Linked DNA regions of Homo sapiens. The protein of the gene in region 3 purifies or fractionates together with the protein of the main gene of each other region. This does not show direct contact. Each region holds a gene or a part of one and is shown on either strand. Other genes may lie near its edges. The genes, in order: VBP1, TENM3, GOLPH3, GMPPA, RCC1L, TSPAN2 and TIPRL.

Evidence for each region.
Region 1: the proteins of GOLPH3 (region 3) and VBP1 fractionate together in Homo sapiens (co-fractionation; one large-scale study listed by BioGRID). This does not show direct contact.
Region 2: the proteins of GOLPH3 (region 3) and TENM3 purify together in Homo sapiens (co-immunoprecipitation; one large-scale study listed by IntAct). This does not show direct contact.
Region 4: the proteins of GOLPH3 (region 3) and GMPPA purify together in Homo sapiens (affinity purification with mass spectrometry; 4 studies listed by BioGRID and IntAct, with this or other methods). This does not show direct contact.
Region 5: the proteins of GOLPH3 (region 3) and RCC1L purify together in Homo sapiens (affinity purification with mass spectrometry; 4 studies listed by BioGRID and IntAct, with this or other methods). This does not show direct contact.
Region 6: the proteins of GOLPH3 (region 3) and TSPAN2 purify together in Homo sapiens (co-immunoprecipitation; one large-scale study listed by IntAct). This does not show direct contact.
Region 7: the proteins of GOLPH3 (region 3) and TIPRL fractionate together in Homo sapiens (co-fractionation; one large-scale study listed by BioGRID). This does not show direct contact.

The regions. Positions count from the first base shown.
Region 1 is NC_000023.11:155,236,901-155,240,341, forward strand, and holds the end of VBP1 (prefoldin subunit 3), read left to right. Parts: intron 1-1,871; coding exon 1,872-1,942; 3' UTR 1,943-2,941; downstream 2,942-3,441. UniProt on the Homo sapiens protein: Binds specifically to cytosolic chaperonin (c-CPN) and transfers target proteins to it. Binds to nascent polypeptide chain and promotes folding in an environment in which there are many competing pathways for nonnative proteins.
Region 2 is NC_000004.12:182,753,902-182,757,401, reverse strand, and holds part of TENM3 (teneurin-3), read right to left. Parts: intron 3,018-3,500; coding exon 2,143-3,017; intron 1-2,142.
Region 3 is NC_000005.10:32,124,216-32,126,767, reverse strand, and holds the end of GOLPH3 (Golgi phosphoprotein 3), read left to right. Parts: intron 1-131; coding exon 132-556; 3' UTR 557-2,052; downstream 2,053-2,552. UniProt on the Homo sapiens protein: Phosphatidylinositol-4-phosphate-binding protein that links Golgi membranes to the cytoskeleton and may participate in the tensile force required for vesicle budding from the Golgi.
Region 4 is NC_000002.12:219,497,599-219,501,690, reverse strand, and holds the start of GMPPA (mannose-1-phosphate guanylyltransferase regulatory subunit alpha), read right to left. Parts: upstream 2,801-4,092; 5' UTR 2,753-2,800; exon of another isoform or gene 2,437-2,752; intron 1,736-2,436; 5' UTR 1,716-1,735; coding exon 1,676-1,715; intron 1,571-1,675; coding exon 1,473-1,570; intron 216-1,472; coding exon 112-215; intron 1-111. Other genes in the region: SPEGNB (SPEG neighbor protein), read right to left, coding at 3,502-3,640, 3,830-3,971. UniProt on the Homo sapiens protein: Regulatory subunit of the GMPPA-GMPPB mannose-1-phosphate guanylyltransferase complex; reduces the catalytic activity of GMPPB when part of the complex. Mediates allosteric feedback inhibition of GMPPB catalytic activity upon binding GDP-alpha-D-mannose.
Region 5 is NC_000007.14:75,060,303-75,063,802, reverse strand, and holds part of RCC1L (RCC1-like G exchanging factor-like protein), read left to right. Parts: intron 1-459; coding exon 460-511; intron 512-2,511; coding exon 2,512-2,596; intron 2,597-3,500. UniProt on the Homo sapiens protein: Guanine nucleotide exchange factor (GEF) for mitochondrial dynamin-related GTPase OPA1. Activates OPA1, by exchanging bound GDP for free GTP, and drives OPA1 and MFN1-dependent mitochondrial fusion. Plays an essential role in mitochondrial ribosome biogenesis.
Region 6 is NC_000001.11:115,051,504-115,055,003, forward strand, and holds part of TSPAN2 (tetraspanin-2), read right to left. Parts: intron 1,960-3,500; coding exon 1,876-1,959; intron 1-1,875. UniProt on the Homo sapiens protein: May play a role in signalling in oligodendrocytes in the early stages of their terminal differentiation into myelin-forming glia and may also function in stabilizing the mature sheath.
Region 7 is NC_000001.11:168,181,962-168,185,461, reverse strand, and holds part of TIPRL (TIP41-like protein), read right to left. Parts: intron 1,561-3,500; coding exon 1,381-1,560; intron 684-1,380; coding exon 584-683; intron 1-583. UniProt on the Homo sapiens protein: May be a allosteric regulator of serine/threonine-protein phosphatase 2A (PP2A). Isoform 1 inhibits catalytic activity of the PP2A(D) core complex in vitro. The PP2A(C):TIPRL complex does not show phosphatase activity.

The DNA.
Region 1 (3,441 bases), on a different chromosome or scaffold from region 3:
CATGAAAATCAATTTTAGAAAAGAGTGGCAGTGCCTTTCTCTGGTAGAACTGTACATGTAAAACAGCTGAATGATAATTCATAGCAAACTATAAGTAAGTTAACATATGCAACACCAAGGCAATTTAAACTTTGGGAAAGATAGATGTAGGCTGGACTTAGTTCAAAGAAGGCTTTGTTGAGAAGATAAAAGTTAGGCTGCTTTTTTAAAGGCGGCGTAGGGTTTAAAGATCAGCAGAGAGAAGAGGTGGGAGTGGGGTATTCTGGTCAAGGGGGAAGGCAAGCTCTTTGCCTTTCTTCTCTGGCCTGTCTTTTCCTCCTACTTCCTGTCACAGTCACTCAAGACAAAATCACGGGAGTCACCTTTCACACTTCTCTCTTCCTCACTACCAATAATAAATCAGTCGCCAGATTCACATCAAATTTCCCTCATAAATCTCTCTGCCCATTACTGTTCTCGTTCTGGGGCTCCAAAACCTGCACTCAGAACCTTTTTAGGTTCCTCTCATTCCATCTGTCCTTCCCACTATCTCTAGTATGAATTTACTAGGTCACTCATTTTTATTCCTCTGGTTACAATATTTCAACGGTTCCTTGTTACTTACAAGATATACATATAGGCACTCTTGTGAAGTGCCCCCAGCTTGTCTCACCTCATGCCACTGACCTCTTCTTGCCTTTCCCCAGTGCATTCCAGGTTCCAGATAACCCCAGTCAGTTATTGTACACACTCCCCAATTGTGCCACACCCTTTGCATTTCTACACTTTGTTCCTCCTAACTGGAATGACTTTCCCATATTTACAGGATGTGCTCTTTTTTTACCCTTTTACCCTAAATATCTCAGTCCAAGCATCAGAGCTTTCCTGAACATTTTCTGATCCTCAGAGTGTTTCTTGTGTGCTTGCTTAACACATACTGCTTAGTTTTACCTTGCCAAACCGTGAGCTCTTCAGATGTAGGAGCTGCACTTTCTCTTCTTTTCCAGTGTGCAGCATGTGGCAGTTGTTTATGGTTGGCTGAGGGAAGGCAGGCCTGTTGGGGCCTAGTGCAGTGGTCATCATCATCTGACGGGTAGTGTGGAAACTTCATCCAGCTATGAGATGACGAGGGCCTAGGACGGGTGGCTTGTGGAAAGGAAAAGATATTAAACGTGTGAGAAAAAAACAGGATCCAGTGACTTAGATGGGTACAGGAGCCAAAAGTGAGGAAATCCTCTAAGATGAGTCCTACAAGCTTAGTTAAATGCCATTTGTTATTGCTAGTACTGCAAAAGGTAGGAAAGGAAGGTGTGCAGACAAGTGAGGGAGCTAGGGTGGACAGTCTCTGTTACATTGACATTCTACTGGAGTCTAAGCTCCACGAGGAAAAGAACTTCACCTGTCTTATTCAGGTCAGGGCTTTGTACAGTGCCTAGTCAAAAATACAGTAGATGCTTAATAAACTTGTTAAGCCAAAGGGAGGGTAAGAGATAAAATTATTGATAATTGTAATAATATAAATATTACATGGCAGGATATGGGTTGAGTGATCTTTCAGATTTCTTGGATGAGGGACTGTCTTTAAAACTATCGAGAGTGTCTAGTACATATTTGTTAAATATATCATAGTTGACTAGCTGACAGTTGACTAATACCATAGTAAACAATGGGTTAACAATTAATTTGAGTCCTTAGTTTTGATAGAGTTTAATTATAGTATTTTCCTAACAATTGACATTATAGCAGGATGTCTTACAATACTATTTGTTACCAGTATTTGTATATGTTTCATTTCTGTGTCTTTGATTCATTGTGTGAGTGGAGTGAATACTTAGTCATTGCATGCATTATCTTTAGAATTGCATTTGCATTTTCTTTGACAATTCTTGCAGATATGGCCAGGGTTTATAATTGGGATGTAAAAAGAAGAAACAAGGATGACTCTACCAAGAACAAAGCATAATGCTGGCAATTAAAAATGTGGTTTAGTTTTCCAAACATGTTATCTTAAATACCCCTTTATCCTTACAGGTTGACATAACTTTGAATGTTTTAACAGCAAGAATTTTAAGAAAAGATAAACACCATTTTATTTATTTATAAAAACAAAATTAGTTTCAAATATTTTTGACATTGTGATTTTTTTTTCCACATTTCTCAGCAAAGCTAATGGTATTTTAATCATTATTTTTGCCTGTCATAAGAAAACTCTTAGCTGAAATGGCCGAAAACTGTGAGACATGCTATGGAAGCTGAATGCCGGACGCTAGCACAGTTTACTTTTTCCCTTTCTAATTGGCTGATGTTACTCTCACTTGATGTGGTTAAACCATTTTAGAGGTAGAGAAGACAGACAGTTTGAATATTTGTAAACTTGTTTTTCTTTGGTATATTTAGGACTTAGTGGTCCTCTGTTGCTATTGTCTTCTATAAGTGGAGTTTCATGACTTACTGCTTAACGAATAACTAACTACTATGATATTCTGGACATTTTAGGAAATGGTAATTTGCCTTGCTACACATTAAGAGGGCTATTAAGACTACATTTTTTCTAACCTCAGATAAGTGCAGTGTCTTTGCAATGCCAACATAAGGGAGATCTTGGCCAACGTGAAATAAAATTACTCATTCAAAACTCTGCCTAAGGTGATTTTGTAGTTCTTAACAGTTCTCCAGAGCATCTTGAACAGGAATATTAAGATAAATGTGAATCTGCAATGGCTGAAAAGAGTTGTGAGCTTTTTTATTCATGATAAAACCTTATAGGAATAGTATAAAAAATCCCTGTGGAAAGCTACTAGTACATTGACCAGCGCTGGGTGATACAGATTCTGATAAAAACATAAATGTATTAGTTCATCTCCATGTAGTAAAAAGTATACTTATACAATGTTTTGTACTTGTATTTCATGAAATTAAAACAGTGATGCTAAAACTATGGCAGAGCACTTTTTTCATGTTACTCTTTGTCTTACTATGTTTGGGCTGCTATAACAGAATACCACAGAGTGGGGGGCTTATAAACAGCAGAAATTTATCTCTCCCAGTTCTGGAGGCTGGGAAGTCCAAGATCAAGGTGCTGGCAGATTTGGTGTCTGGTAAGGGCTGTGTCCTGGTTCGTAAACGGCACCTTTTCACTGTGCCCTCATGTGGCAGAAGGGGCAAGGAGCTCCCTTGGGCCTCTTTAATTTGGCACTAATCTCATCATGAGGGCTCTGCCCTTATGACCTACTCACCTCCCAAAAGCCCCACCTCCTAATACCATCACCTTGGGGGTTAAGATTTTAACATAACAATTTTGGGGTGACACAAAGATTCAGACAATAACACCTTTTTAAAGTTAACATGGGTCTTTTCACGTATTTGTAAAGTTTACTTGTACATATACTAGCATGTTCCAAGAACAACTTATATTTCTAGAAACACCATAAAATCCCTGTGGAAGGAATACAGATCTGCAAA
Region 2 (3,500 bases), on a different chromosome or scaffold from region 3:
TATGTTTCCCCCACTTTCAACTAAACTGAAACCCTACCAATGCCGCCACCATCTCCTGAAGATCTTTTTTTTTTTTTTTTTTTTTTTTTTGAGACGGAGTCTCACTCTGTCACCCAGGCTGGAGTGCAGTGGCACCATCTCAGCTCACTGCAACCTCCACCTCCCGGGTTCATGCCATTCTTCTGCCTCAGCCTCCCAACTAGCTGGCACTATAGGCACCTGCCACCACGCCTGGCGAATTTTTTGTATTTTTAGTAGAGACAGGGTTTCACCGTGTTAGCCAGGATGGTCTTGATCTCCTGACCTCGTGATCCGCCTGCCTCGGCCTCCCAAAGTGCTGGGATTACAGGTGTGAGCCACCGCGCCCGGCCTCCTGAAGATCTTAGAATCAGAGCAGCTCTCCTGCCCAGTCTCATCTGATGGCAGCACTTTTCTTGTGCTCTTTTTTGCTTCGTTGGCAATCTAGCCTGCGATCACTTTGAAAACAGTGCAAAGGAAGTGCTTTCCATTAACTTCCAATTTATTCCTTTCCTATTGCGATACTAAAATGAGCAAAAGGAATGCTAAGAACAGAATTTTAATGTAATTCAATTGAAAAGGTTTGTTCCTCTGACAAAATCATGCTGCTGGCTAACATTCATTTTATTAAAAGGGAATCTGTCAAAAAAGAAAAGCAATTCAAGCTACAGGAGAACTAAGCTTTATGTATAAGACACATTCCAGAAAAGCTATACAGAAAATATTTGTATATTGAGTCATTTTTTCTACTGACTTTTATGATAATTTCAGAGGTGTGCTCCTACAGAAAGAAGTACCTTTGCTTCACCGTATCATTGTGAAAACCACACTAAGGAACTCAGGATTCATTTCAAAGACTATTTTGCGTTTGTCAACATGCCATCTCTGCATATCTCATTTCCCCTCATGGCTTGTACAACCGAGTCAAGTGAACAAGCAATTGAGAATGCATTTATACATGCCCTAACATACTCAACAGCTGATTCTCCTTTCATTCTCAGTGACTCCCAAGATGTGACTGTTCAGACAGCACAGTGCCCGGGCCACCACTCCATGCTATCTCTTGGAACACCCTGGCTGAATGAGCCTCCTACCTCTTCACATGCTTTCAGGCAACAAACTGCAATTCCTGACTTGCATTTAGTTGTAAGGTTCTTTGAGGCACAGTGTAGCTTCTCTGGTAACGATTACAAAAACTTAAGCCCTTCTACGTAATCAGCAAAGTTCACTGTAAATGTTTTTGAAGTTTTTCTTCAATGCAAGTTCCTGAGACAGTCAGCTTTATCAGGTGGGCAAACCTAGAGCCAAAGGCTTTATGCCCCAAACCACAGCTGCGGGATGCTTCTCAGAAGGTTTGCTAAGATGCTAGGTCTATTGGAAGCAAGATGTTAATCCTTAAGTACAGGTAAATTTACCATGAAGCCAACTGAAACTTAAGCTTTGGGCTTCTCCCTTACACGAGTCCCTTCCCTTTCCAAGGCCCTACATCTTGTATCTTGCAATTTTGTCTTCTTTCTCAGAAAGAGGTATCTTTTTTTTTTTGAGGCGGAGTCTCGCTCTGTCGCCCAGAGACTGGAGTGCAGTGGCGCGATCTCGGCTCACTGCAAGCTGCGCCTCCCGGGTTCACGCCATTCTCCTGCCTCAGCCTCCCGAGTAGCTGGGACTACAGGCGCCCGCCACCACGCCCGGCTATTTTTTTTGTATTTTTAGTAGAGACGGGGGTTTCACCGTGTTATCCAGGATGGTCTCGATCTTCTGACCTCGTGATCCGCCCGCCTCGGCCTCCCAAAGTGCTGGGATTACAGGCGTGAGCCACTGCGCCCGGCCATTTTTTTTTCTTTAGAGATACGTTCTGGCTCTGTCACTCAGCCTGGAGTGCAGTGGCACAATCATAGCTCACTGTGGCCTCGAAGTCCTGGGCTCAAGCAATCCTCCCGTCTCAGCCTCCCCAGGAGCTGAGACTACGGGAATGAGCCACCGTGCCCAGCCGGGATCCAAAAATTACAGAAGCTCTAGACTCTCAAAAACATGGAATCCTCCAGCTCTTAAGATTATATTGTTATTATAGATGATATTATTATATCACAGTATTTTATAATCAGAGTAGAATTTTCATATACTTACTCAAAAAACGTTGTCCATCCAGTTTCATCACTTTTAGTGGCTAAAAGGCCACTATTGCCATGGTAAGTAAACAAAACTAATTCCAGTCCTTGAGCAGTCATGCTTTTCAAACATCCATTTGTTCCTATTGTCAACCATATCACTTGGTTATCAGGAGACACCACTCGAACTGGCATGCGATTTGGGTCCCGTCTAATTCTAAGGGTGTTGCCATTGCTGTCTGTCACAGCAGTAATATCATTGTCATTGCTGTAGCTAAAATTGTAAAGGTAATCACCAGTGACTAAACTTACAGTATATTGGTGAGTACCATTGATGTCAAAGATGTAGAGTTCTTGATCAGTTGGAGACGCAACTTCATAGAAGTTCATAGAGTTAAGTAAAGGCTTATTCTTTGACACAGCCCGGATCCGGATATTCCCTAGATCTGCAATATACAGTGTACCATCTGGAGAAGCAGCCAGGGAGGATGGGGCACTGAGTTTGGCATCCTTGGCGTAGCCATCTCCACTCTGGTAACAGTCACAGTTGGCATCATTTTTGCAGTCACACTCTGAAGGTATTCCGGCCACTAAGGAGATTTCTCCATCTGTTGTGACCTGCCTTATCCGGTTAATTTTCTTCTCATCAGTTTCAGTAATGTACAGGACCCCACTGTAGGACACAGCAATGGCAGTGGCTGATTCCAGTGTTGTCTGCACCGCGTGCTTCCCCACAGGATATTCCACTCCGGGAACCTGACAGTGCATGGGCCGTCCAGCAGCAATGCGAACTTGACGATTTTCAGTGATCTGTAAAACTACATTATTATCCAGGACATAAATGGAGTTATCCATAGGGTTAATGGCTAGGTCAGTGGGCCATTCCAGACGTACCTTAATAAAAAAAGAAATGGCCTGGTTAGTAAGTTACTGCACTACAGTTAATTCGCCAGAAGAGTAAATTAGACCATTCAGGGAAATTGGCATTAATCTGAGATAAACTGTCTGATAATAGTTTTTTCAATAGCCTCAGTAAAATAAACCAAAAAGTAATGAATGAAGATAGATACAGGAAATAACACTTTATTTTAAAATTCAGCTCACAGAAAGATTTGCTAGTTACAGGCAAATAGCAAATAGGCCTCTACGTAGTGAGTCAACAGATATCGATGAGCTATGAACACACATGTTCCTTATGGCAGCAATAACCACCAAATGTTGGGGCTTTCTAGGTTATGAATAGATTAGTATTCTATTGTGTTTTCAATCAGGCCAACAGTAAAGTTTCTATTTCTAAATATAAGTCCCTTGGCACTAATCATAGTGGGTTCTCTCTACTACTTAAGGAGCTCATGCAATCAAAAGATTAGAGATTTC
Region 3 (2,552 bases):
GAGAAAAACATGGCAGATTTTCTTCTGTTTTTCTTGGGGCAAAATCAGATTTTACTGTTTAATAGTACAAAATTTTTGCAAAATTAGCAGATAATACTCATCATTTCTAACTTCTGAAATCTTTTGTTTAGGTGAGACATGGAATCCATTAAAATTGCATTATCAGTTAAGAAATGTACGGGAACGATTAGCTAAAAACCTGGTGGAAAAGGGTGTATTGACAACAGAGAAACAGAACTTCCTACTTTTTGACATGACAACACATCCCCTCACCAATAACAACATTAAGCAGCGCCTCATCAAGAAAGTACAGGAAGCCGTTCTTGACAAATGGGTGAATGACCCTCACCGCATGGACAGGCGCTTGCTGGCCCTCATTTACCTGGCTCATGCCTCGGACGTCCTGGAGAATGCTTTTGCTCCTCTTCTGGACGAGCAGTATGATTTGGCTACCAAGAGAGTGCGGCAGCTTCTCGACTTAGACCCTGAAGTGGAATGTCTGAAGGCCAACACCAATGAGGTTCTGTGGGCGGTGGTGGCGGCGTTCACCAAGTAACTCTGCTCGGGGTGAACCATTCTCCTTTCTCTCAAGTAAACCAGTAGTTTTTCTTCTGTTGACTTCTGGTTTTCTGTAATTTGTACTTTCCCACACTATAATTGGCTTCTGTTTTACAAAATGGTGGGTGGCTTTTTCTTTTTTGTACGTGTACAGGATTCTGCTGGTACGAGAGGCCTTCCTCTTTCTGTTTTTAAAAAAAGTTTTACTGCCATATTGGCATTCCATTCCCTGTTGCCATCCTCACTGTTACCTGTTTTGGGTTTCTGGTCTACTTTGACTTTCAAAGTACCTCCAGCCTCCTCATACGCACAGCTTTTGGATGACCTCAGCTTGAGTTTCTCCATATGTGCATGTACATCTAGCATTCTGCCTACAGTTCAGACAGAAGTCACAAAAAGGCCTTCAACTCACCAAAGGTAAATATCTGTATCTATTAGGACATTTTTTACATAGACTTCAGTTGAGATGTATACTTAGCAAAATTATTTTTAAATTGAAACAGCACAGTAAATACTTAATATAAAATGTCCCTTGGATTTTGCTTCCCATGTAAATCTATTGTATTATTACACTTGTTATAATTTTAACTATAAAGGTCCAATTGTTTCACAGAGCCAGTTTGGGATGGGCTGCATTCCATTTATGCTGTATATAGTTTGAATTATATATAAATTACCCCTTCTTCTGGCCACCCCTGCTCCCATCTTAGTATTTTGCAAGATCTAATCAGTTGTACACCTGGTGCCCCTCGCTTGCTTCAATCATGGTTATTTGATGGCAAAATCGACCTCTTGTCGCTGAAGGAGAGAGAAAAGATGTGTGTCTGATTGGTCCTGGGATTTTTTGAGCTGTGCCATTTATGGTACTCTTTGCCTATGCATCCCCTTGTTAGATTTTTTTTAAATTTTATCTTACTGTTTTTATAATTTCTATTGGGAAGAGGCTTGTGACCAGTACCAATCTTGAGTTTCTTTTTCTGTCCACAAGTAAATTAATATCTGCTCTGAAATGTCATTTATCTACTCACACATTCTTGGGGAAAAAAATCAAATGTCAGTCCTAGCAGATGTTGCATGTAAATTGGTAGCAAGTAATGATTACAACCCAGAGGATTAAGAATTTTGTAACAGAAAGCTCTATGTTTTAATTTTTTATATACAATTAGGATAATTAGCATTGTCAGACTATAAACCTTTGCTTTTTAAAGTTTATTTTTACTATTTCTTTATCACTTTATTGTATCATCACCATTGGTTTCATAATGTAAATACTATATGTTGAACAAATTAAATGTCAAAATTTTTTATTACCATAGTCCATGTTAATAGTGGGGCTTTCAGGTGTTTAGAGATTTTTTTTGTTGTTGTTAACATTCATTGCAAAAGTACTAGATGGTGTATAACTCTAGAGTTGAATTTTAAGGGATTCCCTAATATGTATACTATCTTTTTATCTGAAGTAATAAATAAACAATGATCTTGAAAGTGCCTGAATCAGAGCAAGCATGTCATTTGTGTTTTTGTATTCTCATTTAGTTTTCTTTCAAATGAAATGTTACTTACTGTAGCATTGTAATATTTTAATGCAGGGCTTGGGTTTCTTAAAGGGCCAGATAGTAGATATTTTAGGCTTTGTGAGCCGCCAGCTGTGTCAGTTGCAACTACTGAACTTTACTGAATGAAAACTGTTATAGATAATACAAATAAATAGGTTAGACTGTGTTCCAATAAAACTTTATTTGCAAAAACGGGGCTGGTCAAGGCCCCAGTTTTAATGCATGGAAAAAAGACAGATTTTTCTATCCATTGGAGTAACCTTCTTTACCTTCAAAAATGATACTGCTGGTGGTAACTACATGTAGGAACTATTAAAGTGTCTTCCCATAAAGTAGATATTGGGAAACTGATACCAGTATACTGGAATTTCTTATCGAGTGAAAAGTTCCTGTTTTTCACTTGAGAAGATGTTAGAGGTGAGGTAATAGATTTCTGAG
Region 4 (4,092 bases), on a different chromosome or scaffold from region 3:
CCTTCTAGTAGGCGAGGATGAACTCCAGCAAATGCTGACTCAACCCACTTCCAAGAACTCAGAGGCCTAGGGCATCCCCACCCCCCCATATACGAGTGTGTGCACAAACACCTGACTGGAAGGTTAAACTCCTGCTGGGCGGCTTCTAGGAACTGGGTGAGGGGCTCATCAGGTTGGTAGAAGCCAATGAGCAGAATCTCCTGCATTCCAGGGACCTGAGGACAAGGGAAGAGGCTGGGATGAAGAATATCTAATAGGAGGGGATGTTGGGGAAATCCTTGGTGCTGGCCCAAAGTCCAGAAACCAGTTTCAGTCTCAGCTGTGGGGCCCCAGGGCACTCACCACTCTGGGCTATTTTCTCCTCTGGACAATGAGGAATTTGGAGGAAGTCGGAGGCCTGATCTTTTTTCGTTTTGTTTTATTTTTGTGAAAAAGGGTCTCGCTCTGTTGCCCAGGCTGGAGTGCAGTGGCATGATTTTGGCTCACTGCAGCCTCCACGTCCTGGGCTCAAGCGATCCTCCCACCTCAGCCTCCTGAGTATTGAAGACTACAGCCATGTCACCACCTGCCTCAGCCTCTAGAGCAGCTAGGACTACAGCCAGGCCATCACATCTAGCTAATTTTTAAACTTTTTGTAGAGAAGGGGTCTCTTGATGTTGCCAAAGCTAGGCTAGAACTCCTGGCCTCAAGCGATCCTCCTGACTCGGCCTCAAAAAGCGTTGGGATTACAGACATGAGCTACCATGCCAGGCCTGATCTTTCAATCAATTATTACCCCCACCAACCTGAACTGGGACTCACTCTAAGAAAGACTTTGCCTACCAAGCTGCATTAATCCATTTCCACCCCGCCCCCTCCCCCCCGGCCATTTTTATTATCTGTCAGCCTAAGCTTGAGATCAGCATGAGGTAAGGGTACCATTTATCAAGGGTCTGCGTTGTACTAGGCATTTTACAAATATCATTTCTAAGCTTCACCACCCAACAAGGTAGGTCTAATCACCCCCATTTTACACATAAGGAAACTGAGTGTCAGAGAGGGTGTGTTATTTGTTGCAGACCTCACAGCAGGCAGAGACTGAATTCAAACCAAAACCTTGCCTGGCTCAATACGAAAAGCAATAAAGAAATGAGCAACAATGTGATCAAGGATATGAATTTGTGCTTGGTTATCATTAAGAGTCTCCATGCTACGGCTTTACATTGTCTCCAAGATCCTTGCCTGATCTCACATTCCACACTTTAAAAATAGGAGTGAAATCTGAGCAGGAAGAGGCCAGATGAGAAACTAGATTAGGGGAAGACAGCAGGGCAGCTGCACAGCATAACTTGAGGGGGCGCCATTCACATTGTCATCTGTGAATGATGGTCCTTGGAGTTATGCCTGGTGGGAAGAGTTCATGGTTGGGAAAGGGGGAAACAGCATGAAGATAAGCAGGAAGTGAGGTGAGAGAGGGGAGCCCCTGAGGTTACCTGGGCACAGGCTTCAATATGGTGTTGGATCATAGGGACCCCTGCCACAGGAAACAATGGTTTGGGCACCTCAAAAGACAAAGGTCTGAAGCGAGTTCCTGGGAGAGGAGAGAGGAGAACATTTCGGCCTCCTGCCTTCCTCTGCCCCCATCCCGCCTACCACTCCAGCCCAACCTCCTCCCCCCATTCCCCTGGCACCTCACCCTTTTGAGGGCCTCCAATCAGGATCACCGCTTTGAGCATAATGGTGACTGCTACCTAAACTTCAAATTCCAACAGAGAAATCAAGCTCAGATCTCCTACCCCAACCAAGCCCCAAAACCCAAATAGCAACACTTAGCCCTCTCCCAAGATGTAAACCCAAAGCTCAATATAGTCTCTGCCTGGACCCAACACCTCACAAATCCCACACATCTCAAATCCCAGCAGAGAAATCAAGCTCAGATCTCACACCCCAACCAAACCCCAAACCCCAAATAGCAGCACTTAGCCCTCCCCCAAGATGTAAACCCAAAGCTCAATATAGTCCCTGCCTGGACAGAACCTCACAAATCCCACACATCTCAAATCCCAACCCAGATTCCAGTCGGCCTTCAAACCTCACAGTGATTCCTCCCAAATTCTGAAATTCACACCCCACAATTTGATCTCTAAAAGACTTCCCTCTGGCCATGAACAAATTCTGCAAATTCAGAAACCTGGCAGAGACTCCCTTCTCAGACCCAAACCTCAAAATACTGAAGCCTCAAATTCCCAAAGTGTTGCGTCTTCATTCTAGATATTAAGCCCTGAACCCCAATAGTGAACCCTGAATATTGGACAGCAAACCCTGAGTGAGCCTCAGATATTTAACTTAAATCCTGAACGTAATCCCCAAGTACTGAACTAACACTGATCTGAATTTGAAGAACCCCTAATCCCAGCAAAAATCCTCTATATGCTAAACATGAATCCTAAAACTAACCTCTGTATGTTGAACCCCAAATCAAAAGACAGGTTCCCTTGGCATCTCAAACACTGAACCTATTGACCCCCCTCCAGTCCTAATACGGACGACTGGGTCTAAATCTCTGGATTCGGAGGATTGATTGATTGCTGACCCTCTGAACCCCACAACTGACTCTGTCCAATAAACCCTGGCCTCTCATTGCCAGGGATTGTGGGACCAACACAGGGGCGGGCGCACCGAGGGCCAGCCAGGACCTCGGAGCCCGCTCTCCGTCTAGAGGGTGTCCCCTGCCCCTTACCCCTGCCGCCACCCCTCCACCAGCTCCCTTTACCACTAGCTCCCTTCACTCCAGCTCTGCCGCCCGCTACTGCAAGCTCCTTCCGCGCACGTGTCTTCTCGCAAGTCGCGAGAACTCATTCGCAGGGTCTGCCGGGAATTGTAGTCTGACCCTTTACCCGCTTTCTAACTTTATGGGAGAGGAAAGAGGTGCTGAAGTCCAGGGGTGTGACCAAGGGATCGCGGGGCGGGGTTAAATGCGAAGAAGGGTGGGGCCTGAGAAGCCCAGCCTGGAACTTAAGACTGGGACCCGAGCTGTTGGGGAATCGGCCTCGGGGCAGCAGCCGAAGTGAGGAACTGGGTCCCACAGGAAAACGGGACTAAGGACAGCAGGGGTGTGTGGCCAGCCCTGGAAGGGGCGGGGCCAGGGGCAAACAGCCACAAGGGGCTGGGGCTGGAGGCGCTCAAAAGCGGAGAAGGCGGAGTCCCAGGCCCAGCCGGCGGTACCGCTGGGAAGTGAGGGCGCCTTGGACGGCGAGGGCAACTCTTATCAGTTTGACTGTCTGAAATGCAGCACGGCGCTAGGCGCTCTCCAGACCTCCCTGTGACTCCAACAGGCTGTGACCTTGGCGTGGGGGTCTGGAATACGTGTGGGCGCTGGTGCGGGGGAGAGGGAATGGCGACGCGGAAGAGCAGGACAGACGCGGAGGGTCAGAGAGCAGCTTTATTAAGCAAGCTGGTGGAGGGCTGTGGGTCCCACCACCCCCGGGCTCGGCGCCAGGGCGGAAGGTCCGGGGGTGCCGTTCAGGCCACGTCGACGCGAGCGAAGCTCTGGTCCATGCCCAGGCTGTTCTCCACGTACACCTCGTACTTGCCGCTGTCCTGAGGCGTGGCCCGGCGAATGGTCAGCGTCGTGGTGGTGCTGCCGATCTCGAAGAACACCCTGCGGAAGGGCGGCGGGGAGGAGGGCGGAGCCGTGGTCAGTACACGGGCGCACTGGGCGGGGCTCCTTAGCCAGCTCTGTTCCTCGCTGCCCAGTCCCCGCCCCCGTCACTCCAGCCAGATTTCTGGGCTCAGTCCCACCCAGGTTCCAGCCCCAGGCCCTGGCCGTGCCGCAGGTCCCGGCCCTCGCCTGTCATCCTCCTCGATGTCCTCCCCGTCCTTGGTCCAGCCTACGTCGGGCGCAGGCTCTCCCAGGATCTCCGCAGTCAGCGTCACGGTGGTGCCTTTGCGCGCCTTAGTGTTGTCGGGTCCCTTTTGAATCTTCGTCGGGACTAGCGGAAGGAAAGGGGAGCGAAACCCCGTGAAGGACCCGGAGATGAGGCAGGGCATCACCTCACCGGCTAATACCCGGCACTAAATACAGATGCATTTAAACTCGCAGTGTGACGTTGA
Region 5 (3,500 bases), on a different chromosome or scaffold from region 3:
GATTACAGGCGTCCGCCACCGCACTTGGCTAATTTTTTGTATTTTTAGTAGAGATGGGGTTTCTTCATGTTGGCCAGGCTGGTTTCAAACTCCTGACCTCAAGTGATCCGCCCACCTCGGCCTCTAAAAGTGCTGGAATTACAGGCGTGACCCACCGCGCCCGGTGAGTTCTTTTCATTTTAGTGTTTAAAAACACTTCCCTCTAGTTCCTTGTATGTTGTTGGAGGGCCTTAACACCACTCTCAACTTTGGCCATGTGTTAAAATCACCTAGGATTTTGTTTGGCTTTACTTTCATGACCAGGCCTGACTCGACCTAAGATTTGACCTTGAGAGTTACCCCAACAGTTACTGTGTGAGCGGAGGGGACGGGCCATCAGTTGGGGTGACAGGGAAAGGGCTGCACAGTGCTTGTCATGACCGCATCCCTTGCTTCTTCCCAATTTGTTCCTGGCTGTAGTGAAAGTCACAGAGTCCACAGGATGCAGGACTTCGATGGCCAGGTGGTCCAGGTAAGAGAGATGGGCCGAGAGCTGCTTGTTGTGTTCCTGGGGTGCTTTTGAAAAGTTGAGATTTGGGTAGGGTGATGGCAAATTTGTTAGGGGGATTTTCTGAATTAAATTATTTTAGTAAAAATTGTAGCCTACTTACTATAGGCCAGGATTTATGCTAGATTCTAGGGATACAAAGTTTAATAAGATTTTGGGGCCGGGTGTGGTGGCTATACCTGTAATGCCAGCACTTTGGGAGGCCGAGACAGGTGGATCACCTGAAGTCAGGAGTTCCAGACCACCCTGGCCAACATGGTGAAACCCCGTCTTTACTAAAAATACAAAAATTAGCCGGGTGTGGTGGCACATGCCTGTAATCCCAGCTACTCAGGAGGCTGAGGCACAGGAATTGCTTGAACCTGGGAGGTGGAGGCTGCAATGAGCTGAGAGATTGCACCACTGCACTCCAGCCTGGATGACAGAGCAAGACTCTGTCTCAAAAAAAAACAGATTTTTGGGGATGACACTCTAGTGAGTGAACAAGTTAAAAAGCTAACTGAGGCCGGATGTGGTGGCTCACACCTGTAACGTCAGCCTCTGGGGAGGCTGAGGCAAAAGTATCACAGCACTTGCTGTATTCATGCATATGTGCATTGAAATATTTATGATAGGTACCTACCATGAGCCAGGCACTATTCTGGGGATGAGAATAAAATGGAGAGCAAAATACAGCTGGCTTAGAACACCACAGCACTAATCATACTGTGATACGGCTGGCTTTTTGGTTTTATTTGGAAATTTTTTAGAGGCAGGGTCTCATTCTGTTGCCTAGGCTGGAATGCAGTGGCACGATCATAGCTCACTGCAGCCTTGAACTCTTGGGCTCAAGTGATCTTGCCTCAGCCCCCTGTGTAGCTGGGTCTACAGGTGTGCATCACCATCCTCGGCTAATTATTTTAAAGAGACAGATTCTCACTGTGCTGGCCAGGCTGGTCTCAAACTCTTGGCCTCAAGCCATCCTCCCGCCTTGGCTGCCCAAACTGTTGGGATTATGGGTTAAGCCACCATGTCAGGCCTCCTTCACCTATTAGACTGAGTGACTTTGTGCAAGTTACCAGACATCTCCAAGATAGTTTCTTTTTCTTTTTTTTTATTTTAGTGCAGTGGCACAATCTCAGCTCAGAGCAACCTCTGCCTCCTGGGTTCAAGCGATTCTCGTGCCTCAGACTCCCGAGTTGCTGGGATTACAGGCATGTGCCACCATACCTGGCTAATTTTTGTATTTTTAGTAGAGATGGGGTTTCACCATGTTGGCCAGGCTGGTCTTGAACTCCTGACCTCAAGTGATCCACCTGCCTTGGCCTCTCAACGTGTTGGGATTACAGGAGTGAGTCACTGTGCCCAGCTGAGATTCAGTTTCTTACTAGGTGGTTTTGGTTATTGACTTAACACAATGCCTGGTGTAAAAATTGTTCAATAGATGGTGCTTTTCTTTAGGCAGTTAGAAAAATGAGTTTGGAACTGAGGAGAGTTGTTGAGACCAGAGATCACAGTGCAGAGGCCACAGTTAAGCATTGAGAATGGCTCCCATCTCCCAGGGTAGCATGAGGAGTGAGGAGAGAGGAGGGCAGGAGACACACCCTGGAGAGAGATCCCAACAGCAAAGGGTCTGAAGTAGAGGCTGAGTGTGTGAGCAAGGCTGGAAGCTGTGAAAGTAGAAGAGAGGGCTGGGAGGAGAAGGGTTATGGAGAAGGGGTGGTTCTTTGGAGATGGCGTGGGATGGATGGCAGAGCTCTTGGATTTGCCCCTTTGGAGATCTGCATTTTACTTTAACAAGAGCAGTTTCAATGCAGTGGGAGACTGGTAGATTGAGAAGGAGTAAGATGAGCATGGAGCAGTCTGCCTGGACCATGCTCCAGGTGCCCAGGAGCGGCAGGCGATGGTGCTGGTCCTTCTTTGGATGAGGACACCAGGGTTCTAAGTATTTCCTCTCATCCCCCTTACCTCTGTTTGTCTGCTAGGTCGCCTGTGGTCAGGATCATAGTCTGTTCCTGACGGATAAAGGAGAAGTCTATTCTTGTGGATGGGGTGCTGATGGGCAAACAGGTAGAGTTCTTTTCATGCACTGGGGTCGTGAAACTTCTCAGCCCGTGTCATGTGGAGCTGTGAGCTGTAGGGCATTTATGGGCTAGAACCCTTCTTCCTTAATTCAGCTCTTACCTCTTATCACTTTCTGAGGAACACTATTCTTGGCTCCATCGCCCAAGCTGGAGTGCAGTGGCGCGATCACATCTCACTGCAGTCTCAAACTCCCAGGCTCAGGTGATCCTCCCACCACAGTCTCCAGAGTAGCTGGGACAACAGGTGTGAGCCACCAAGCCCAGCTAATTTTTTGTAACAACAGGGTTTCGCCATGTTGCCCAGGCTGGTCTTGAACTCCTGACCTTAAGCAGTCTGCCTGCTGTGGCCTCTTGGTGGGCTGGGATTCCAGGCAGGAGCCACTGTGCCCTGCTGTAATACTTTTTTTTTGCATCCCTTCCATTCCCCTCAGCCCTGGCTCCCATAGAAATGAACTGAGAGAAGGCTGGGTGCAGTGGCTCACACCTGTAATCCCAGCACTTTGGGAGGCCGAGGTGGGCGGATCACTTGAGGTCAGGAGTTTGAGACCAGCTTGGCCACCATGGCGAAACCCCATCTCTACTAAAAATACAAAAATTAGCTGGGTGTGGTGGCACACGGCTGTAATCCCAGCTACTAGGAAGGCTGAGGCAGGAGAATGGCTTGAACCCGGGAGGCGGAGGTTGCTGTGAGCCAAGATCGCGCCATTGCACTCCAGCCTGGACAACAGAGCAAGACTCTGTCTCAAAAACAAACAAACACAAACTGCAGAGAAAAGGACAGGCAGGACCTGCCCAAAGGCAAATGTCATTATTGGCACTTGGTATGGGGGTAACCCCTGGCCAGCAGCCCAAGGCAGAGCACTGAACTGTAGACTCTTGCCTTCATCCAG
Region 6 (3,500 bases), on a different chromosome or scaffold from region 3:
AATAGAAGAATGCCAAAGAGTCTTCTTGTCCGCTATTATTTCCCCTACAATTTTGTAGAGCCCATGGAACCCTATCTGTGGGCACCATTCCATAAACTACTGTCAATGCTTATTTTAAAAAATGGGTACTATAACTTTCTGGTTCTCTCCTCAATTCCATCCTAAGTCAGACTAGGATCTGTAAGTGCTAAATTCAATAAGATATGAATGATCAGTTGTTTTGAAAAGGGAGGGGCAGAAGCAGGTAAGGGCATGGCCAGGAACAGGATTTCAAGCTTCTGGATGACAGGACTCAGTACCAGTGTGTAGCACGGGCGACACCCAATGCACTTTTAGTTAGCTGATTACATTGTGCAACTCTCACTTTACAGAGAAAAGAACTAACGAAGAAACCTGGGGGTGCCGACTCAAGATAGGCTCACTATGGGCATTTCCCCTTTATCATTGCCATAAGGTTGGATGTAATCCCTACCCATCCTGGTTTCAGTGAGACTCCTTCAGTCTCAGCCTACTGCCGACACGAGTCAGGGGTGAATGCTTCTAGGCTGCTCATTTGCTGAGATTGTGAAACTCTCCATTATGCAGCACACGCTCAGACCTGCCTCAGGACTGTCCTTTGGGGAGCTGCAGAACTGCAGCCAGGCTATCCCCAGAGCAGGTGGGGAGGACCTGAGAAATGTCCCTTGATTTGGAGGGCCTCAGCAGAGTATTTCCAGCCACTTCTCCACCCCTCTGTGCTCTAAATACAGAAAAGGGGAAGGCGCTTGTGTGTCCCCTGATAACTGCAAATTCACTGATTTCCTCACAATTCCCACAGCCCTTGCCTTAGTTTAGGCCATGAATTAATCTACATAGAGGGCTAGAGACTAAGTGCCATCTTAGCATTAGCTATTATCATCCAACCCCTGGACAATGGAAATCATCCTTTAACCCGCCTTCCAAATCCAATCTTGCCTCCCTCCAACCTTTCCTCTATCCTCTACCACAGGTTCTTCCAACTCTTGGTGACTCCCCTTTCCTTAAGGGTGAAGCCCACCCTTTCAAAGGGGCATACAAAGATCTCAATGATGTAGATCGAATACTCTCTCCATTACCACCTCTCGCAACTCCTGCCATACCTGTCCGCTGCTATCCATTCTTCCCACACACTCTTCTTTTGTACTTTAGAAGTACAGAGCCACCTGGTGGTGGTCTGGATGCACTACGCTTAATACCATCTATGCCATTGCCTTTGCCTGGTAGATTATGCAGAGAGCTGGCATTTGTTGAGTGTTATATGTCCCAGACACTTTATTTATATTAATTTGTAATACTACTGTATATGTAGTATCCCATTTAATTTTCACGGCAATCCTATAAGGTTTATATATTAACAGACGAGGAAATTGAGGTATAGAAAAATTAAGAAATTTTCCTGCGATCTCAGAGCTTGCAAATGGTGGAGCCTAGAGTTAAATCCAAACCATGTGATGCCAGAGCTCGCCCTATTAATCTCTATGCTCTGCTGCCTCTTCAAATCGTAGGTGAGAGAGATTAACCTGATATGTTGCATTGAATTTGTAACAGTAGAAAGAGACCCAGAACTGAAAATCATTTATCTAGGTTATGGATAGTAGCCTTAAAACGGGAAGTTAATAACAATGACACACTCAAGGTCATAATGAGTTAAAGTTGAAATTTCTATTATATTTTAGAGGACAAACTATTAATATATTTATGAGCTTTGTTCTTAGAAGATGTAATACATTGTGAACAAAGGTCTTTTTTCTTTATGAGAATTCTCTCTTAAGATACTATCACACTTGAAAAGAAATAAGATGCAAAGTTTCAAGGCTTTTTAGAGGGCAAAAAGGGTAAGTTCTAGAACTTTCTCACCGTCAGACCTGCAATTCCAATACCGACAATTCCAATGAGCTGGAGCTTAACACTGATTATGGTCTCAATTTCATCGATGCAATTCTGTTTTGAGGAAAAAAAGTCGGGAATAAAAACTGATTGTATGTGTCAGTCATTATCCTGATCCTATCCTTTCCATCTCTACAGTTCATTCTGTGAGAGTTAATCCATGCCAGCTTCTACTCATGTTTCAACAATTCATCTTTGATAACATCATCCTAATAAGCTTAATGCAAAAATGCAGTTTGGGGAAAAAAATAGAAGCCTCTCCTTTGGGTGAGATTTTCATGTTTAGGCCAGTGGCTTCTTCGGAGCCCTGAAATATAACTGGAGGAAGCTATTTGTCTGGTTCCAAGGAATCTAAAAATTTGGAGCCACTTCTTACTTGTAGCAAATAAGTAAAATACCCTTAAAACAATAACTCTTTGTTTTCATATTGTCATTTACAGTTTAAAATACTTTCTATGTCTTTGACCCAATTTACTATGCAAAGTAGGCATGACCTATTAAGAAACTAAAAAGTCTTAACAGGTTCAAGTTAAACAAAGGAAAGCCAAGAATTAGAAAAGCCAAGTCTTGGAGCTAGAGGACCATTCTCTCCTGTGGTGGCTGGGCTGGGCTGTGCTGGGTGAGTTCCTATCCTTTCATCTGTGCCCATAAGACACCTGTGCAGCATAGATTCAAAGGGCCTTCATGGATGTGGGGAAACTTAGACAGAAAGCCAAATAGATCACCTGTAACTATTATTAGTTTCTCCAACTTCAAACACTCCTATTTGGAGTGCTCTTAAGTAGAGGGATGCTCTCAATCCAACTGTACCCTCAGGTTGTTCAGATCTGTTCACTTGTCACTGGTTGGTTCCTTTGATACCATCTGAGCTATATAAAACCCTTACTTCTCTCTTCGTATTTCCTATCACACTTCATTCATTCAACAAACATTTCTTGAGCATCTACCTTGCATTAGTCACTGGAAGAGGGGTGGTAGATGCAGAGACAATAGGATATGGTTTCTCCTGCTTTCTGGGAATTCACAGTTTAGAGGACACAGATCCACAAGAGATACCTATAATGCATTCTGACAAAAGTTTGAAAACTACTCTTCTAAGGAGTGGCTCCCTTACTTAGTGGAAAAAATGAGAGTCAACCTATAGCAATTCTTTCACTCTTCCTCTCCTTCTCCTATACACTTAGATGCTCCCTTCCTTCAGTGCCAGGCATTGCTGTAGGTAGCAAGCACACTCCTGACTCCTTTTTCTCTGATCAGAGCCAAAGAGGTGCCCTTCTCTGTTGAAAGTTAACCTCATGGCTGGGCGCGGTGGCTCAAGCCTGTAATCCCAGCACTTGGGAGGCCGAGATGCGTGGATCACCTAAGGTCAGGAGATCGAGACCAGCCTGGCCAACATGGTGAAACCCCGTCTCTACTGAAAATAAAAAAATTAGCCGGGCATGGTGGCACCTACCTGTAATCCCAGCTACTAGCGGGGCTGAGGCAGGAGGATCACTTGAACCTGGGAGGTGGAGGTTGCAGTGAGCCGAGATCATGCCACTACACTCCAGCCTGGGCAACAGAGTGAGACTCTGTCTCAAAATAAATAAATAAAT
Region 7 (3,500 bases), on a different chromosome or scaffold from region 3:
CACAGGACTTAATACTAATATAGAGCTTTAGAATTTATTGAGAGCTTCCCATAAATTATTTCACATCAAAACTCTGCTTTGAGGTAGATATTTCTGTTTACCCAATTTATTGATAAAACTGAGACTCAAATTAAGTAACTTCCTAAAGTCATTTCAGGTTCATACTCAGGGCAGACAGGGCATAAACCTACTTTGTCTAACCAGAAGTTCTTTTTGCTCATATATTTGTTCATCTATAAACTTGTGAGCTACAAGCTAGCAGGTTCTGTCTAAATCATGTAATACATTACCAAGGCCCGAAACACATTTTAATGTTTCTTGATAGTGATAATGATAACAACAAGGCCGTCTGCCGTTGCCACCAACTACACTTTTAAAAATAAATTTTTCCACTAATGCCGTCTTTTATTTTCTACTGATAAGTCAACAAGCAAAACCCCCTCACATTAGGTTCTGAGGAATGCCACAACAGAAAACAAGGACGATAAAAATAGTTGCAAAAAATAACCCGTTACTAGAAAGTTCTAATGCTCAGACTGTCCAAGACAATCAATGACTCATGAAAGAAAAAAGTAAGATTTACCTTTAACTTAAGAGATTCTCCAAGTAAGGTTCCCTTATAATCTGTTGTATAGGTCCAATCATATGGTTTAATAACCTCTTTGGAGTGTTCACCCTCCGTCCTCAAATACCAAAATGAGAAGGATCAGATTCAGTGATGCAGAATAGAGATTATCTGTATTTATATATCACATCAAATTATATTCTATAATAACATATCCTATTAAATATATACACTTGTTATAATTCACCAGTACAAGGTTTTTCTTACAGTTTTTCTGCATTTATTATTTAACTTGTCATGTACTGATGTAGTCTTTTCAATTAGTCTGTATACAGCCTGAGGACATGGTTTAAAGGTTTATACTTATTTGTATCATCTAAGGTACTTAGTACATATTAGGCACAAAGTAAATAATTGCTGATTTGACTATCAAAGAAAAACATGTTGTCTTAATTTCAATGCTTCTCAAATAGGGTATTTATTAAGCATATCATAAGTAAACATTTTTTCTTAAAAACAGGAACATTAAGTATAGCCTACTGCCTCTTCAGTAAGGAACACTGAAAAATCGAAAACGTACATAGCTCAGCTCAGTTGTAATTCACTTTAACAAGTATTCAAGCAGTGGGGTAATTAACTTCCATTTTTATGTCTGAGAAAAACGAATTCTAGAATGATACAACTCTCAAGTTTAATAATACCAGCCCTTCATTCTAACAACACACACGTATCATTACTGAATATTTTTTCAAGTCTTTTCTCTTTTGTTTAACCTAATTACCTTTTTTGTTTAACCTAATTGACCGGATTCTCACCTGCTTTCTTGCCACTCTTCAGCACAGGCCACTTTAAGCATTCCTTGGTAGTTGTTTACACATCTTAACGCATCTGTAGCATTGAACTCAATTCCAAAGCCAGACCCATGCTGGATTCTTAAAACGTTGTCTCCAAACATCATTTCAGGGAGAGATGGCATATGTAATTCATCGGCTAATCTATACGTAACCAAAAGTCGGGTGAGATAATTTTATATCGCTGTTGGCATTTTTGTTTCTTTTCCATCCCAACAGAATTCTTCCTACTTGCTGAATGAGTTACACAGCACATGATTTAATCAATATGATATATTTGCAAGGTCTATAAAATGCTTTCATCATCCATTCTTTCATCATCATATGGCACTGTACTAAGTAGTGGGCTAAATAAGATAAATATACAAATACGTAATATAATAGCTTATTATACTACTATAATATATAGCACACAGATATTACTATAATATATATCATGAGGGTATGAAGAAAAGATAGCAAAGCAATTAAAGATACTGTCTCTTGTAGGAAAATAATTTTTCCATTAAAATTCTCAATTGTTAAAAGTTTCAAAACGTGGTGATGAAAAAAGCAAAAGCACCTGACACTGATGAGGGAACTCAGCACTTGCCTACACAGACTTTCAGAAGGATTGTGTCAATTTACATTTCACCCTGGGGCAACAATCAAGCAAAAAAAAAAAAAAATCACAGGAATTTAACATAATTTACACACTTATGACCCAAAGTATCAGTTTTAGAATACCTGTACTAAAGAATAATTCCAAGTACAGAAAAATATTATACACATTAATACTTATAATGGCTTTACTTATAATCATGAAAAAGAAATACTCTGAATGTTTCATTATAAAGCAACAAATGATTATGCAAACCAAAGTATATCCATATGATGAAATATTATGGAACCATTACAAATGTTTAAAGAGAGACTATAATAATATGAAAAAATGCTTATGATAAAATAGTAAGAAAAAAACTGGACACACATTGTATATTTATTACATCTAAACGTGTATTTCTGTGTGCACATATCAGTGATCTAACTTTGAGGTGCAGGTCTTCAGGACTGCACAATGTTAACAATGGTCTTCAGGACTAACAATGTTAACTTTCATCATAATTTTAAGTAAAATTTATTCTTTGTTATTAGGAGATAGAAAATATTAAATACTTAAAAGATTAGATACAATAAACTGTAATTGGAATATATATTCCATAAGATTCCATAAAATAAGTTTTAACTTGAATAATGCATACCAAATGTGAAATAATATGTGAGTCTGTGGATTCTAACCAATATATCTGGAAAAATGTGGCAGTCCTATAAAATATTCCACTCATATATGTAAAAGAATCACTGTTACTAATTTACAGTCCTTCAGTGTTCTAAATATAGAGTTTCTTAAACATAGGCCAAAATGCCCTCTTTTTTTTTTGAGACGGAGTCTCGCTCTGTTGCCCAGGTTGGAGTGCAATGGCACGATCTTGGCTCACTGCAACTTCCGCCTCCCAGATTCAAGCAATCCTCCTGTTTCAGCCTTCCTAGGAGCTGGGATTACAGGCACGTGCCACCATGCCCGGCTAATTTTTGTATTTTTAGTAGAAACAGGGTTTCACCATGTTGGCCAGGCTGGTCTCGAACTCCTGACCTCAGGTGATCCACCTGCCTCGGTCTCCCAAAATGCTGGGATTACAGGCGTGAGTCACCGCGCCCGGCCTGAAAATGCCCTATTTCTAACATCATCAAGCTTCCCACTTAAAAACAGGTATAACTAGTTACAAGGAGAGAAGACAGGAAGCTCCTGTGGTTTTAAGGTGCCTTAAATATTCATTAGAAGAGCTTCTTTAATCCAATATTTTACCCAACCAATTTATTTAGCACCTTAGTGGTTTTTACAATCTATGATAATGCATCACAGAAAAATTTGGGATTGGTGAGGGTAAGTCTTCCTTTTGTCATATAAAAAAAGGCATTTTTTTTTTTTTGGCGGAGGGTGGGGGACGGAGTCTTACTCTGTCATCCAGGCTGGAGCACAGTGGCACGATCTCAGCGTACTGCAACCTCTACCTCCCAAGTTCAAGTGATTCTCGTGCCTCAGC